Homo sapiens: one gene and its partner. The protein of the gene in region 1 purifies or fractionates together with the protein of each later gene. This does not show direct contact. Each region holds a gene or a part of one and is shown in the gene's direction. Other genes may lie near its edges.

The links. Proteins that work in one complex are often made in the same cells at the same time.
Region 2: the proteins of STAU1 (region 1) and IQGAP1 purify together in Homo sapiens (affinity purification with mass spectrometry; 4 studies listed by BioGRID and IntAct, with this or other methods). This does not show direct contact.

Annotation. Positions count from the first base shown.
Region 1 is NC_000020.11:49,185,334-49,193,064, reverse strand, and holds the start of STAU1 (double-stranded RNA-binding protein Staufen homolog 1), read left to right. Parts: upstream 1-4,730; 5' UTR 4,731-4,949; intron 4,950-6,103; exon of another isoform or gene 6,104-6,326; intron 6,327-7,731. UniProt on the Homo sapiens protein: Binds double-stranded RNA (regardless of the sequence) and tubulin.
Region 2 is NC_000015.10:90,383,512-90,391,258, forward strand, and holds the start of IQGAP1 (ras GTPase-activating-like protein IQGAP1), read left to right. Parts: upstream 1-4,730; 5' UTR 4,731-4,830; coding exon 4,831-4,885; intron 4,886-7,262; coding exon 7,263-7,362; intron 7,363-7,747. UniProt on the Homo sapiens protein: Plays a crucial role in regulating the dynamics and assembly of the actin cytoskeleton.

The DNA of each region.
Region 1 (7,731 bases):
TCATACATGTGTTTGTGTCTATCTGGAAATATCTCTTCCATTGATTGTGGAACTAATCAGGCACTAGCATCTAACTATTTTAATTGGTAATGCTTTACCAATAGTATGTTTGCTATTTGGTCAGGAGTTTTCAGAAAGTTCTTGGTTATTTTTCTTATTAATTTTTCCATAAGACTTTAGACATGGCTCATAGAGATCCAAAACAAAATCCTGTTTGTTATTTTTCTTGGGATCTCATTCAATGTCTTTTTAAATTTTAATGTATTTTTTGAGTCAGGGTCTCACTCCAAGCCTGGAGTGCAGTGGTGCAATCACAGCTCACTGCAGCCTCAACCTCCTGGGCTCACGCGATTCTCCCACTTCAGCCTCCCAAGTAGCTGGGGCCACAGGCACATGCCACCACACCCGGCTAATTATTTTTGTACTTTTTTTGTAGAGTTGGGATTTTGCCACGTTGGCCAGGCTGTCCTTCAATGTCTTGATCAACTGATATCTTAATGATCTGGATGGAACCTTCCTAGCCAATACCATAACCTGTATTTCTCTTTGTTCAAGTCTTTTTCTGTATTCTTTTGCAGAATTAAACATTTTTTCTTCACACAGATTGTGCATATTTCTTGTAAAGTTTATTTCTAGGTATTTTTATTTTTCCACTGCTTTGTAAATGGGATCTTCCATTATATCTTTTTTCTCTTGTTTTTTCTTTTTTTTTTTTTTTTGAGATGGAGTCTCGCTCTGTTTCCCAGGCTGCAGTGCAGTGACTCGATCTCAGCTCACTGCAAGCTCTGCCTCCTGGGTTCACGCCATTCTCCTGCCTCAGCCTCCCGAGTAGCTGGGACTACAGGTGCCTGCCACCACGCCCAGCTAATTTTTTGTATTTTTAGTAGAGATGGGGTTTCACCATGTTAGCCAGGATGGTCTCGATCTCCTGACCTCATGATCTGCCCTCCTCGGCCTCCCAAAGTGCTGGGATTACAGGCGTGAACCACCGTGCCCAGCCTCATTTTGTTTTTTGAGATGGAGTCTCGCTCTCTTGCCTAGGCTGGAATACAGTGGCGTGATCTCAGCTCACTGAAACCTCTGCCTCCCAGGTTCAAGTGATTCTCCTGCCTCACATGCCCGAGTACCTGGGACTAAAGTTGCATACCACCACGGCTGGCTAATTTCTGTATGTTTAGTAGCGATGGGGTTTCACCATGTTGGCCAGGCTGGTCTCGAACTCCTGACCTCAAGAGATCCGCCTGCCTTGGCCTCCCAAAGTGCTGGGATTACAGGTGTAAGCCACTGCGCCCGGCCCCATTATATTTTTATGTCTTCTAATTGTTGCTCTTAGATTCTGATATATCCCTAGGAGTGCAGGCTACCTCAAATAAGCTTGGGAATTACTTATTTAGGCCAGCAAGTAGTTCTCAACCTTGTTCTCCTGTGCTACACATACCACAGGTGACCCTGACATACACCAATCAACCCTACAGGTGTTCCCTGTTTCTTAGGGACTTGCGCAGAGATAAGCAAGGCTGTAATTTTTCAGCAGTCTACGGAAATTTATCATGTACTATTGTGTCCCTGGCACTGTGTTATGGGCCAGGGACCATCATGACTACTAAGACAGGCTGAGTCTCTGCTGTCATGGAAGTTGATCACTTAGTTCTAGCCTAATAGATATACTCAACAGATAATTGAAAATTATAAGGGTGCAAAGTTCTACTAAGAGGCTATGAGAGTGGAACAGATAATTCATCAGAGGTTAACATTCACACTTGTAATCCCAGCACCTTGGGAGGCCGAGGCGGGTGGATCACCTGAGGCCAGGAGTTCGAGACCAGCCTGGCCAACATGGCGAAACCCCGTCTGTACTAAAAACACAAAAATTACAGGGCATGGTGGCAAGCGCCTGTAGTCTCAGCTACTCGGGAGGCTGAGGCAGGAGAATTGCTTGAGCCCGGGAGGTGGAGGTTGCAGTGAGCCGAGATCGCGCCACTGCACTTTAGCCTGGGTGACTGAGGGAGACTCTGTCTCAAAAAAAAAAAATAATTAAAAATAAAAATAAATGTCTCACAGGGCTTTTATGAGCTTTGCATCAGAGAGCCGAGATCACACCATTGCACTTCAGCTTGGGCAACAGAGTGAGATTCTGTCTCAAAAAAAAAAAAAAAAAATTCAGCATCTCACAGGGCTTTTATGAGTTTTGCATGTTCCCATTCCTTAGTACAGATGCACATAATTTATCTTGTGAGAAGGAACACACATAATTTATCGTAACATACTTAATGCTCACAGTTTCTTGTGAACCAAGAACACACAGCTTCCATCTTTTTCTCAAGGTAAAGAAAAATGATTCCTTAATTACTTAGCAAGACTCAAGAGGTCTTCAGGACCTTGGAAGAGAACTTGACTGATAGTTTCTAGGTACAAACAGAAGAAAACAAATCTAGGTGACCTACTCCTGGTCAGGTATGGTGGCCCACACCTGGAATAATCCCCCCAGTACTTTGGAAGATTGAGGCAAGAGGATTGCTTGAGCCTAGAATTTGAGACCAGCCTGGTCAACTTAGTAACTTAGTAAGACCCTGGGCAACTTAGTAAAACCCTGTCTCTATAAAAAATTAAAAAATTAGCTGGGAGTGGTGGCACATGCCTGTGGTCCCAGCTACTCAGGAGGCTGAGGTAGGAGGATTTCTTGAGCTCAGGAGGTTGAGGCTGCAGTTAGCTGTGCTCATGCCACTGCACTCTAGTTAGGTGACAGAGCGAGACCCTGTCTCAAGAAAAAAACAAAAAAGATGCGGAAGGAGGAAAGAGGGAAGAAAATTGAGACTGGAAGTCATAGACCCACCACTTTTGTCCCTATGGGTGATAGCAAAATCACCTTTGACGAGATTGTCTGATTGTGCGCAGCTTTGGGTTTAGGGAGACCTCTCTGCATCTGCTCCTTTACCCAAGGAGGTATGGGATCCACACTGCTTGGAAGTTAGAAAGAAAAGATCACTTTTAGCAGAGGGCTGGACAATATCTGAATGTTGCTTACTACTGTCTTGGATGGGCACTAAAGGGACGGTGAAAGTCCTTTGACTATTTTTGGTGTTCTGAAATTCAGTGTCATTGCACTTCACAAGAAGCAATGTAAGGAGGCAAGTGTCCTCCCAGGCTTCGCTAAGGCTCCAAAGCCTTGTTTGGAGGGGCCTCTTCAGACACAGCAGCTCGTATTTTGAATTTATATTCCGTTGGCAAGAGAGATTGAGCAATTATTAGATTGAGAGACATTTAAGAAAGAGAGAATTATTTTTAAATAGTGGGGCGGCAGTCCCAGAGTGAGCGGGAGAGAGAAGCTCTGTGCACCTGCAGTTCCTTCATTCATTCTCAGTTTCTTGGACCTCTCACAACGCGAGCATAATTTTCGCTGAGTGTGCAGAAGTTCAAGATTCTTTTTTTTTTTTTTTTTTTTTTTGAGACAGAGTCTCACTCTGTTGCCCAGGTTGGAGTGCAATGGCGTGATCTCGGCTCACTGCAACCTCCGTCTCCCGGGTTCAAGAGATTCTCCTGCCTCAGCCTCCCAAGTAGCTGTGATTACAGGCGCCCACCACTGCATCCGGCTAGTAGAGACGGGGTTTCACCATGTTAGTCAGGCTGGTCTCGAACTCCTGACCTCAGGTGATCCGCCCACCTCGGCCTCCCAAAGTGCCGGGATTACAGGCGTGAGCCACTGCGCCTGGCCAAGATTCTTTACTGGCCACCCTCTCTCCAACCTCCCATACAATACAGCTGCTAAAAACCACTTAGTTTATCTAGGTCTGGGTGAAATAAATAGTAATCTGGCACTTCTCGTCTTTTTTTTTTTTTTTTTTTTTTTTTTTTTTTTTTTTTTTGAGACCAGTGTCTCTTTGTCGCCAAGGCTGGAGTGCAGCGGCGCGATCTCAGCTCACTGCAATCTCCGCCTCCCGGGTTCAAGCGATTCTCCTGCCTCAGCCTCCCGAGTAGCTGTTTACCTACAGGCGCCCGCCACCACGCCCGGCTAATTTTTTGTATTTTCAGTAGAGACGGGGGTTTCACCGTGGTAGCCAGGATGGTCTCGATCTCTTGACCTAGTGATCCGCCCGCCTCGGCCTCCCAAAGTGCCGGGATTAGAGGCCTGAGCCAACGCGCCCGGGCCATTGTCTTTTATCTCACTACACATTTTTCAATTTTATTTATTGTGTATTTTACTTACACAAGAATGTAAGCTCCACGAGGGCAGGGATTTTTGTCAGTTCACCACTACATTCTTAGCTCTTGGAGCAATGCCTTGCATATGGCAAGCATTTAATGAACATTTACAGATGGAGGAAGAAACAACTGCAGGAAGGAGAGAAAGGAAGGCCAGAGGCAGGACAAGAGGAAGAAGCGACAGCAAGGAAGGAAAAAGGAAGTGGAGGAGGAAAGAAGGTAGGCTGGGTTCTCCCAGACCCGCTTCGAGTCCAGCAGGCAGCGCGAAACTCCCACCAGAACTACAACTCCCGGCAGGCCCCGGGACTCAGGACGGGCCGCTGCGGTCCAGGCGGGACAGGGCGCTCCTCCCGCTGGGCCCCCGGCGTGCCTTGCGAGCGCAGGCTCCGCCGCAGTGCCAGCCGGAACTTGTGGTTCGGACCGTGGGTGGGGGTGGGGCCGGGGCCGGGCCTGGAGGCGGGCGGGGGCCGGGGGCGGGCGCCTGCCCCTCCCCCGTCACTTCCTGCCGGGCTGCGGGCGCCTGAGCGGCTCTTCAGCGTTTGCGCCGGCGGCTGCCGCGTCTCTCTCGGCTCCCGCTTCCTTTGACCGCCTCCCCCCCCCGGCCCGGCGGCGCCCGCCTCCTCCACGGCCACTCCGCCTCTTCCCTCCCTTCGTCCCTTCTTCCTCTCCCTTTTTTCCTTCTTCCTTCCCCTCCTCGCCGCCACCGCCCAGGACCGCCGGCCGGGGGACGAGCTCGGAGCAGCAGCCAGGTGAGGCGGCCGGGCCGGGCCGGGCCTGGTGGGGCCCTCGCGGGCGCCGCCGCGGTGGGGAGGTGGGCGGCGGGTGGGGCCTAGGCCTCGGCGGGCCCGCGCACCCCTCCGCCTTCTCCCGGGCCTCTCTCTAGCCCGCGGGGCCTTCCCGGAGGAGGCGGGTCCTCTTGCGTTCCCTCGCCTCGGGGCGCCCTGAGGCCTGGCCCCGGGCGCCCCCATCCCCTCCAGCCCTCACCGGTGCCACAAACAGGTGCTGCGGCCGCCTTTCCTCGTCCCGCATGGCGCGCGCGGGGATGCCGAAGTTATTCCCGGGGCTGGGGCGCAGGCGGGGGGGGGGGGGGGTCCCTGCTTCAGGTCCCCGAGGGCTGGAGCCTCTCAGTGTCGCCGGCCCAGGTCTGTAGCTTAGTGGTTAAGAGCACGGCCCAGGTGTCCAAAACGGGTGCCGAACCCGGCTCTGCCCCGTTAGGCAAGACACTTAAAAAGTCTTTGTGTCTTGGTTGGAAAAGGGGCTGCTAATACCGTCCCTGCCTCTTAAGGTTCAGTGAAATGGGGCGTGTAAAGCGCTTATCAGAGTGCCAGACCCACAGCGTGTCCCAGTAAACCGTCTGCATAATTTATTAGCGTGATATGAAGGTATAATTTAATGGGCAGAGTGGATAGAAGTTGACCTACCTATCCGTTTGGGTTTCTTAGAGGCTGCAGTGTTCCGCGTGCCCATGTCCAGAGCCAGGGCATTGTTTTCAGTTGTTAACATCTGAAAGGGGCGTACGCTTAATTGGGACACTGTAGTTGACAGTCTGTAAACGATGGATGCTGTTTCTTTCCATCTCCGCTTAGGCAACTGCAGGATATTCACCATCTCCCGCAGGATGAGCAACCTGTCCATTTCTCCCCGCCCCGCCATCATCCAGCTTCTTCTTGTCATTCCATTTCTGGGAAAGTTGCTGGCAGAAGCTTCCCTTGAGTTGAGCAAACCTATCTAGAGCACTTGCTGTGTGTTGGGCTCTGAAGGGGGGTGTACGGAGATGGAAAAATTTGTCTGTCTTGTCTTGCTCTACACCTCGATAAGTTTTTTTTCACGGAAGCTTTGCTTATATTCACCCCTCCCTGTTGGCTGACTTTCCTTTTAAGCCCTTGCCCCGCCTCCGTGTTGCAGTATTGCTTGTGTGGAAGTTTTCTTCTGTTCCGCGAAGATACGTGCTTCAGTCTGTTCTGCCACTGTTCTTCGGCTGTGTGGAAGTTTTTAAGGTCACACTTCTCTTCTGCTTGTAGCTTTCATTGTTAAGAGCGTGGTGGAGTTAAATCAGGTTCCCGGTTGATTTTGGCGTTTCAGGAATCCGTGCTTACCAAGTGTAAATTGCATTGCTACTTGTTGAGGTAAAAACTAAAAATACAGTTGGAGTGTAGAGGGAGCAGTTTCGGTTATCCTGGTGACAGGTGGGATTTTTAGAACAGCAACTTTACTAAAACATACTGGGTTTTTAAAAATTCTGTACTTAGTTTTATAGGTGTACTCTAAGGAAATGCAACTTATGGGTGTTCAATTTTATATGAGTAAGGAGTGTGTGTTTACCTGAGTGATCCTCCTGTATCTTAGGATTGTTTTAGGCATTAAATTTCCTTAGTGAACTGAAACTATTTTGATTTATACCCATCTCTTAACACACATGCGGCAAAGTGGCCTCCTTGTTTTTGACATTTTCCTAGAATTTTCTGACAGTCTTACCATTGTTTGTAATTTAAAATGTTTGTTTGAATTTTTTTTTTTTTTTGAGACAGTCTCACGCTGTCGCCCAGGCTGGAGTGCAGTGGCGCGATTTCGGCTCATTTCAACCTCTGCCACCCTGGTTCAAAAGATTCTCCCGTCTCAGCCTCCCGAGTAGCTGGGATTACAGACGCCCGCCACCGCGCCGTGTTAATTTTTGTAGTTTTCGTAGAGACGGGGTTTTGCCATGTTGGCCAGACTGGTCTCGAACTCCTAACCTCGTGATCCACCCTCCTAGGCCTCCATAAGCAGGTTAGGCGCGGTGGCTCACGCCTGTAATCCCAGAACTTTTGGGAGGCCGAGGCGGGTGGATCACGAGGTCAGGAGATGGAGACTATCTCTTGAGCCTGGTGTGGTGGCGGGCGCCTGCAGTCCCAGCTACTCCCGAGGCTGAGACAGGAGAATCGCTTGAACCCGGGAGGTGGAGGTTGCCTGGGCGACAGAGAGAGACTCTCTCCAAAAAAACAAAACAAAAAAAACACATAAGCAAACAACTATACAAGCAGTATAAAGCATGTCTAATACTGCCATATCACAATGGCATATTTCAATAGGGAAATGGTATTTTAAATACCATTTTTTAAAAACCTTTTATTCTGGAAAACATGCGAAACTCGAATAGTATGGAGAACCCCATGTGTTAGTCACTCACTTAGCTTTGACAATTATTAACTCATAGCCAAGGTCGGTTTTGTTTCATGTTGTATCCCCCCACACAAACTAGATTATTTTGAAACAAATCTTAAACATTGTGTCACAACATTAGCGATTTTGACTTTTACCAGATTGCCCCAGATTAAGGTCACAAAATTTACTTTTAGTAGAATAATAGTTCTCATTTTTGTTTGTTGGGCTTCCCTTCTCTGTTTATACATGATTTCTGTACAGCAGAAAAGAAGAAGAAAATTAACTCTTGATCCAATGCCTTCAGCTCCTCAAAATCAAAATACAACCTTGCTGCTTTATTGTGTACAAAAGCAAAAATTCTTGAGCTATTAATGACTATAATTGAAAAGC
Region 2 (7,747 bases), on another chromosome or scaffold:
TGACTAGGAATTGGGCTTTGTCATTAGACAGGCCTGGGTTTGAGTTCCAGCTCTGCCTCTTGCTGTGTGGCTTCAGGTAAGTAACCCAGTTCTCCATTTTCCCAAGTGTAAAATGGACATAATGGGATTATTACAAGGATCAGCTGAGAAAATAAATGTGCAACACTTAGTATAGTAAGGTACCAGTGCAGTTGGTAACTTAACATCTCTGTGGCTTTCACCTCAGACAAACTTTGTAATTAAGTAAAGAAAGCCTTTATGGAATGAACAATTGGATTAATATGTTGGAGTTAAGAAGAAATATTTCGGCTGGGCATGGTGGCTCATGCCTATAACCCCAGCACATTGGGAGGCCAAGGTGGGCAGATCACTTGAGGTCAAGAGTTCGAGACCAGCCTGGCCAACATGGCAAAACCTCACCTCCAGTAAAAATACAAAAATTAGCCGGGTGTGGTCGTGTGCGCCTGTAAGCCCAGCTACTCAGGAGGCTGAGGCAGGATAATCACTTGAACTTGGGAGGCTGAGGTTGCAGTGAGCCGAAATCACGCCACTGCACTCCAGCCTGGGTGACAGAGTGAAACTCTGTCTCAAAAAAAAAAAAAAAAAAAGAAGAAGAAGAAGAAATATTTCACATTTTATGTATTCGCAATGTTTAAGAAAATTTGGCCGACTTGAATGACAGCTTTTTTGTAAATCATTTTAAATGTGTAATTGAGTTAGTTTTAGACTTAGGTTTTTGAGTTGAAAGCTTACTAAGTTTACACATGGAATCAGGCCATCTAAGAGAATGTTAGCTTTGTTATGCTTGTATGTTTATTTATAGGAATTACTAAGTTTTGAAAAAGTTTTAAACAATTGAATGAATTAAAAAGAAAATCTAGGCCGGGCACAGTGGTTCACGCCTGTAATCCAAGCAGTTTGGGAGGCAGAGGTGGGTGGATCACCTGAGGTCAGGAGTTCAAGACCAGCCTGGGCAACATGGTGAAATCCCGTCTCTACTAAAAATACAAAAATTAGCTGGGCGCGGTGGTGCGTGCCTGTAATCCCAGCTACTCAGGAGGCTGAGGCAGGAGAATCGCTTGAGCCCAGGAGGCAGAGGTTGCAATGAGCCAAGATTGTGCCATTACACTCCAGCCTGTGCGACAGAGTGAGACTCCGTCTCAAAAAAAAAAAAAAGTTTTGAAAAAGTTTTATACGATTGAATGAACTAAAAAGAAAATCTAGGCCAGGTGCGGTGGCTCATGCCTGTAATCTTAGCACTTTGGGAGGCCGAGGCCAGTGGATCACAAGGTCAGGAGTTTGAGACCAGCCTGGCCAATATAGTGAAACCCCATCTCTAATAAAAAAATATATATATATATAAAATTAGCCAGGTGTGGTGGCGGGTGCCTGTAATTCCAGCCACTTGGGAGGCTGAGGCAGAAGAATCCCTTGAACCCGGGAGGCGGAGGTTGCAGTGAGCTGAGATTGCACCATTGCACTCCAGCCTGGGTGACAAGAGTGAAACTCCATCTCAAAAGAAAAAAAAAAAGAAAATGTAATAGGAAATCTAATATAGACAATATAATAGGCACAATTTATTCTTTATTATTATTTTTTATTTTTATTTATTTATTTTTTTGAGATGGAGTCTCGCTCTATTGCCTAGGCTAGAGTGCAGAGGCATGATCTTGGCTCACTGCAAGCTCCGCCTCCAGGGTTCACGCCATTCTCCTGCCTCAGCCTCCCGAGTAGCTGGAATACAGGTGCCCGCCACCATGCCCGGCTAATTTTTTTTTTTTTTGTGTTTTTAATAGAGCTGGGGTTTCACCGTGTTAGCCTGGATGGTCTCAATATCCTGACCTCGTGATTCGCCCACCTCGGCCTCCGAAAGTGCTAGGATTACAGGCGTGAGCCACCGTGCCCGGCAATTATTATTATTTTTTAAAAGACAGTCTCGCTCCGTCAACCAGGCTGGATTGCAGGAGCACAATCTCGGCTCACTGCAACCTCTGCCTCCTGGGTTCAAGTGATTCTCCTGCCTTAGCCTCCCGAGTAGCTGGGACTACAGGCGTGTGTCACCATACTAAGCTAATTTTTTTGTATTTTAGTAGAGACGGGGGTTTCACCATGTTGGCCAGGCTGCTCTCGAACTCCTGACCTAAGGTGATCCACCCACCTTGACCTCCCAAAGTGCTCGGATTACAGGTGTGAGCCACTGTGCCTGCCCTAGTAGGCATAATTTTAAATATTTGAAGATGTTGAATTAACTGAGTGAGACTTAAAAAAAAATTTTCAGGAAATTTCAGAATGCTCTATGTCCTCGTTGCCATTGCGGCTGCCTTTCTCAAGAATGCCTGGCCTAAGGAGCGGGTGCTGGTCCTGTTCCTCACCATCGGGGGCCTAGCTATAAATCTGACCCCAGTCTGCCCCTATACCATGTACTCCACCAGGATCAACTAGGCCACGCCCCACAACAACCCAGTGCCCCTCCGAGATGATGGGAACATGCTGGACATGCCCAGCCACCCCCAAGGCCCAAGCATGGAGTGGTTGAAGAAACTGCAAGCACTTCCATTGACATGGAGAAGACCATGTCCCCTGTGGCCCCCAATAAAAATGTGACCCCCCCGCCTCCGAAATAAATAAATCATTCAGTTTCTGAAAAGTGTTTGGTAAAATGTGCTAGACTTATAAATAGAATAATACAATTTGTAAAGTGAACTTAAAAGCTTAAGAATGAAATAACTTTTTACTTTGTAGGCTTAATAAATGAAACCCTTGCCCACTTTTCTACAGGGGTGTTTTGTTCTTACAGGTTTTCAAGTATCTTTAATAGTCTGAAGGAAGAGTGAATACATTGAAAATAGCTGGAGCAAAACATCTGGAGTCAGGCTATGATTTGGCATGCTAAATCATGCTGAACTTGGCCCATTATCTTGAAGGGAGGAATAGAAAAAAAAATTTAAAAAGAGAAACACAATTGCATTTGCACTTTAGAGAGAACACCCTGATAACTGTGAGGATCTAGTTGGCAGAAGGGCGACTACAGTGTAATCACAACAGGGATGGAGACAAAAGTAGACATCTCAGAAATAAACACAGATTGGATGTAGGGTGCGAGGCAAGGAGCCTGGGGTGTTCCCACTGGGAATTGAGTACTTCTGTGAATAGAGAATATAGCAGGAGCAGGGTCAGTATTTGACACGTGGGATTTGAAGTGTCTGCCCTATACACAGGTGAAAGTGTTCATTAGCTGAAAATACTGAGGGACTTCCAGACGATCTGGTCTGGTGATACATATCGAGGGGTCCTCAGCAGTTATAGGCGAGTGTAGAAAAGATTACTGAGTAGGCAAAGAATAAACGGAAGAGGGCCGGGCGCGGTGGCTCACACCTGTAATCTCAGCACTTTGGGAAGCAGAAGCGGGTGGATTACCTGAGGTCAGGAGTTCGAGACCAGCCTGATCAACATGGTGAAACCCTGCCTCTACTAAAAATACAAAAAAAGTAGTTGGGCGTGGTGGCGGGCACCTATAATCCCAGCTACTTGGGAGGCTGAGGCGGGAGAGTCGCTTGAACCCGGGAGGCGGAGGTTGCAGTGAGCCGAGATCGCGCCACTGCACTCCAGCCTGAACGACTGAGCAAAACTCCGTCTCAAAAAAAAAAAAAAAAAAAAAATGCCGGGCGCGGTGGCTCACGCCTGTAATCCCAGCACTGTGGGAGGCCGAGGCGGGTGGATCACGAGGTCAGGAGATCGAGACCATCCTGGCTAACACGGTGAAACCCCGTCTCTACTAAAAATACAAAAACTTAGCCGGGCGCGGTGGCGGGTGCCTGTAGACTCAGCTACTCGGGAGGCTGAGGCAGGAGAATGGCGCGAACCCGGGAGGCGGAGCTTGCAGTGAGCCCGGATCGCGCCACTGCACTCCAGCCTGGGCGACAGAGCGAGACTCCGTCTCAAAAAAAAAAGAAAATAAAAAAAAAGAAAGAAAGAAAAGAAAAAAGAATAAACAGAAGAGGGCTGCGGACAGAATACCGTTGAATACCAATATCTGAAGGGCAAGCCACAAGGTGCAGGGGGCAGAGGCATCCCTGATACGGGAAAAGAGTTATTTTAAAAAGAACTTGCAAAGAACAATGTCAAGGGATCCAAAGGTAGGGAATTTGGACAGAGTTCGGCTTTAGCATCCGCATCTCAAATACCTGGGTACCTGGGTAATCTGGTGACTGCTGCCGAATCTAAGAGGACTGAGGCCAGGTTGCCAAACTGCGGAGAGTGGGGTTGGAGGGCTTTCATGGCAGTTTGGGGCCTGCTTGTGTCCAACAAGACAACCTGGGTCACCTCAAAGGGTGTCTTCTCCAAATATTGGTGCAGAGGTTAGCTGGGCCGGCAAGAGAAGGGAGATGACCCACTATTTTGATTTCAGGCAGCAGACACCGGCAGCCTTTCGGTTAGAGTTGCGGATAGGGCAGTGGCCTTGGGGGCGGGGCTATAAACCTGGGCGGGCATTCCCGGCAGGGCAAGCTCAGCGTGAGCCCGATTGGAGGATGGGCTCTACCTTCTTCCTTCCGCCTACGGAGACCATAGCGGGATGCAGGGCGGGGCCGGGCTGAGGGGGCGGAGTTAGGGGCGGGGCACGGTGACTCTGGCCCCGCCTCTTTCCGGCCGCTCAGGGCGGTGTCGCTGGGGCGGTGCCGCTGGGGCGGGGCCTGCGGGGTGGGGCTGACGGCACGGGGCGGGGCCTCGGGGACCCCGGCAAGCCCGCGCACTTGGCAGGAGCTGTAGCTACCGCCGTCCGCGCCTCCAAGGTTTCACGGCTTCCTCAGCAGAGACTCGGGCTCGTCCGCCATGTCCGCCGCAGACGAGGTTGACGGGCTGGGCGTGGCCCGGCCGCACTATGGCTGTGAGTGCGGGGCTCCGCGGCGCGGGGGCTTCGGGCTGGGCTAATTGCAGACGAGGCGCGATTTTCCTGGGGGCTCGGCCGGGCGGGTGGGGCAGGGCGGCTGCCGGCAGCTCGGACCCGGAAGAGCCGTCCCGGTGGGGCGGCGGGCGGCGGGCGGGGAGGCCCCTGGTTCGCGCCCCCTCGGGGTCCGAGGCGGCGGAGAGGACCCCCGAGGCCTCCCGCCTTAGCTGGGGCCGCGGTAGGGGGAGCCCCACCCAGCGCCTCTCGCCGCCCAGGCTCGGCCGAGATTGGGGAAGACGGCCTAGAGTGAGGTGGCAGGATGACCGCGCAGGGCGTGTCCCGGGGATTGGGGGTCTGGGTACGCGGGCTCTGCCCGTTTCGTGGAAAGGCGCTGCCCTAGTGTTGCCTGCGGGGTAGACCCAAGGGATAGACCAGGGTCCAGACCTGTCCGGTCCCAGGCTAGCTACGAGGTGCCGTCCTGGGCAAGTCACTTCAGTTTTCTCGGGCTTAGTTCCCTCCTCAAGATTTCAAAAGTAAAATAGTAATAAAGAAAAAAAAAAGAAGCAGAAAATCCTCTGACTTCCTCATTTTCTGTTGTCGGCCCTGGACGTCATTGAACTGCAGGCAGGATTGGCTAAAGGAGGACCCTTTGGGATTTTGAGGTTTTCGGTTTTATTTTATATTGTGGGAATAATGTTCTTTTTTAAAGGATCAACATTTCACGCATCAACAGTTATACGTGAGGTATTGTGCCACGTTTGTGAAATTAAAGATGAGTAAGATCAGGCCCTGTCTCCAAAGAGCGTTTTAATCAGAGAGTCAGGTGTGCAAGCTAATGATTATAAGGTGCAATAATGATAAAAGATGCTGAACTTACTAGCCATACAGAGTAATGTAGGTAAGGAGAAGGGGCCTGGGGAAGACAGTATGAGCACGGGAGGTGACTTTTTTTTTTTTTTTTTTGGAGACAGGGGGTCTTGCTCTGGTCGCCCAGCCTGGAGTTCAGTGGTGCAATCTCAGCTCACTGCAAACTCCACCTCCCAGGTTCAAGCGATTCTCCTGCAGTCTCCCGAGTACAGGCGTCGGCCACCACACTGGCTAATTTTTGTATTTTTAGTAGAGACAGGGTTTCACTGTGTTGGTCAGGCTGGTCTCAAACTCCTGATCTCAAATGATCCCCACGCCTCGACCTCCCAAAGTGTGAGCCACTGCACCTGGCCTGAAGGTGACATTTGAACAGAGCCTTGAAGAATGCTGTGTAGAAAGTTTGACAGGTGGCCAGGCATAGTGACTCCTGCGTGTAATCCCAGCACTTTGGGAGTCCGAGGTGAGAGGATAGTTTGAGGCCTTGAGTTTGAGACCAGCCTGGGCAGCACAGTGAGACTCCATCTCTTAAAAAAAAAAAAAAAAATTAGCCAGGCGTGGTGGCCCATGCCTGTGGTCCCAGCTGCTTGGGGCTGAGGTAGGAGGATCATTTGAGCCCAGAAAGTCGAGGCTGCAGTAAGCCATGATTGTGCCACTGCACTCGAGCCGGAGTGACAGAACAAGACCCTGTCTCAAAAAAAAAAAAAAAAAAGTTTGATAGGGCATGTGGAACAAGAGACAGGACCTGAGGGAAGAGCATAAACAAAGGTATTGAAAGTAGAGGGATACTGTGTTGGGAACTGAGTGATGTAGACTGCACAGTGGTGGGAGGAAGGGAAGAGGAGAGTTTCCAAAAATAGTTGGGACCAGACTGGGAAAGGCCTTGAATGCCTTCCCAAGGAGTTAGGAATTTATTCCACACCTGGTGCCCATGAAGGAAGCAGATTGCTTCAAGGTTAAGCTCAGGCTTTGGAGACAGACTCTCCAGGTTTGGATTCAGGCCCTGTCACTTATTTGCCATGGGGCTGAGTTCACCCAGCCTCAGTTTCTTCGTCTGTAAAATAGGAGTGATAATCACAGGATTGTTGTGGGGTTTCAATGAGAGAATGCGTGTAAAATGCTTCGTACAATTACTGCCACTTATGTCTCAATAACTGCTGGCTTTGGTCATTAATAAAAGAGGGAAACAATATTATCAGATCTGTATTTAGAAGGAGTTCTGGCAGATAGGGACAGATTTGTGCCAAAATCTCAAGACAGTATTTTTCAAGATTACACTGAAACTTAGTACATATTTATATTATCATACATTTTTAAAAAGGTCAAGATGATTATAGTTGAAACCACATAGTTCTTTTTTTAAGAAAGTCATTGTAGTACACCTGGCTGGCTACACACTCATTAGTTATCCTGACTTTCTAGGTGAGTGGCAGGAAATTGATTCTGTGGCAATCTTTTATCACTCAGGAAGGCTACAGATCCTGGTGTTTACATTCTTTCTTTTATGTTGTAGCTGTCCTGGATAATGAAAGACTTACTGCAGAGGAGATGGATGAAAGGAGACGTCAGAACGTGGCTTATGAGTACCTTTGTCATTTGGAAGAAGCGAAGAGGTAAAGATTGGCTGGCTGGAGAGAAGATTAAGAGAAGGGAACTGATAATAGTGTGAATACAAATAAAGATTGCTTTGAGGCTGAACACAGTGGTCCATGCCTGTAATCCCAACACGTTGGGAGGCCGAGGTGGGGGGGAATCACTTGAACCCAGCTGTTTGAGACCAGATTGGGCAACATAGTGACACCCCATCTCTACAAAAAAATTTTAAAAATTAGCCAGGCATGGTGGTGCATGCCAGTAGTCCTAGCTACTCGGGAGCCTGAGGAGGGAGGATCACTTGAGTCCGGGAGGTCGAGGCAGCAGTGAGCCGTGCTCTCACCACTGTGCTCTAGCCTGGGTGACAAAACTCCTGTTTTTGGTGGGGGGAAAAAAAAGAAAAGA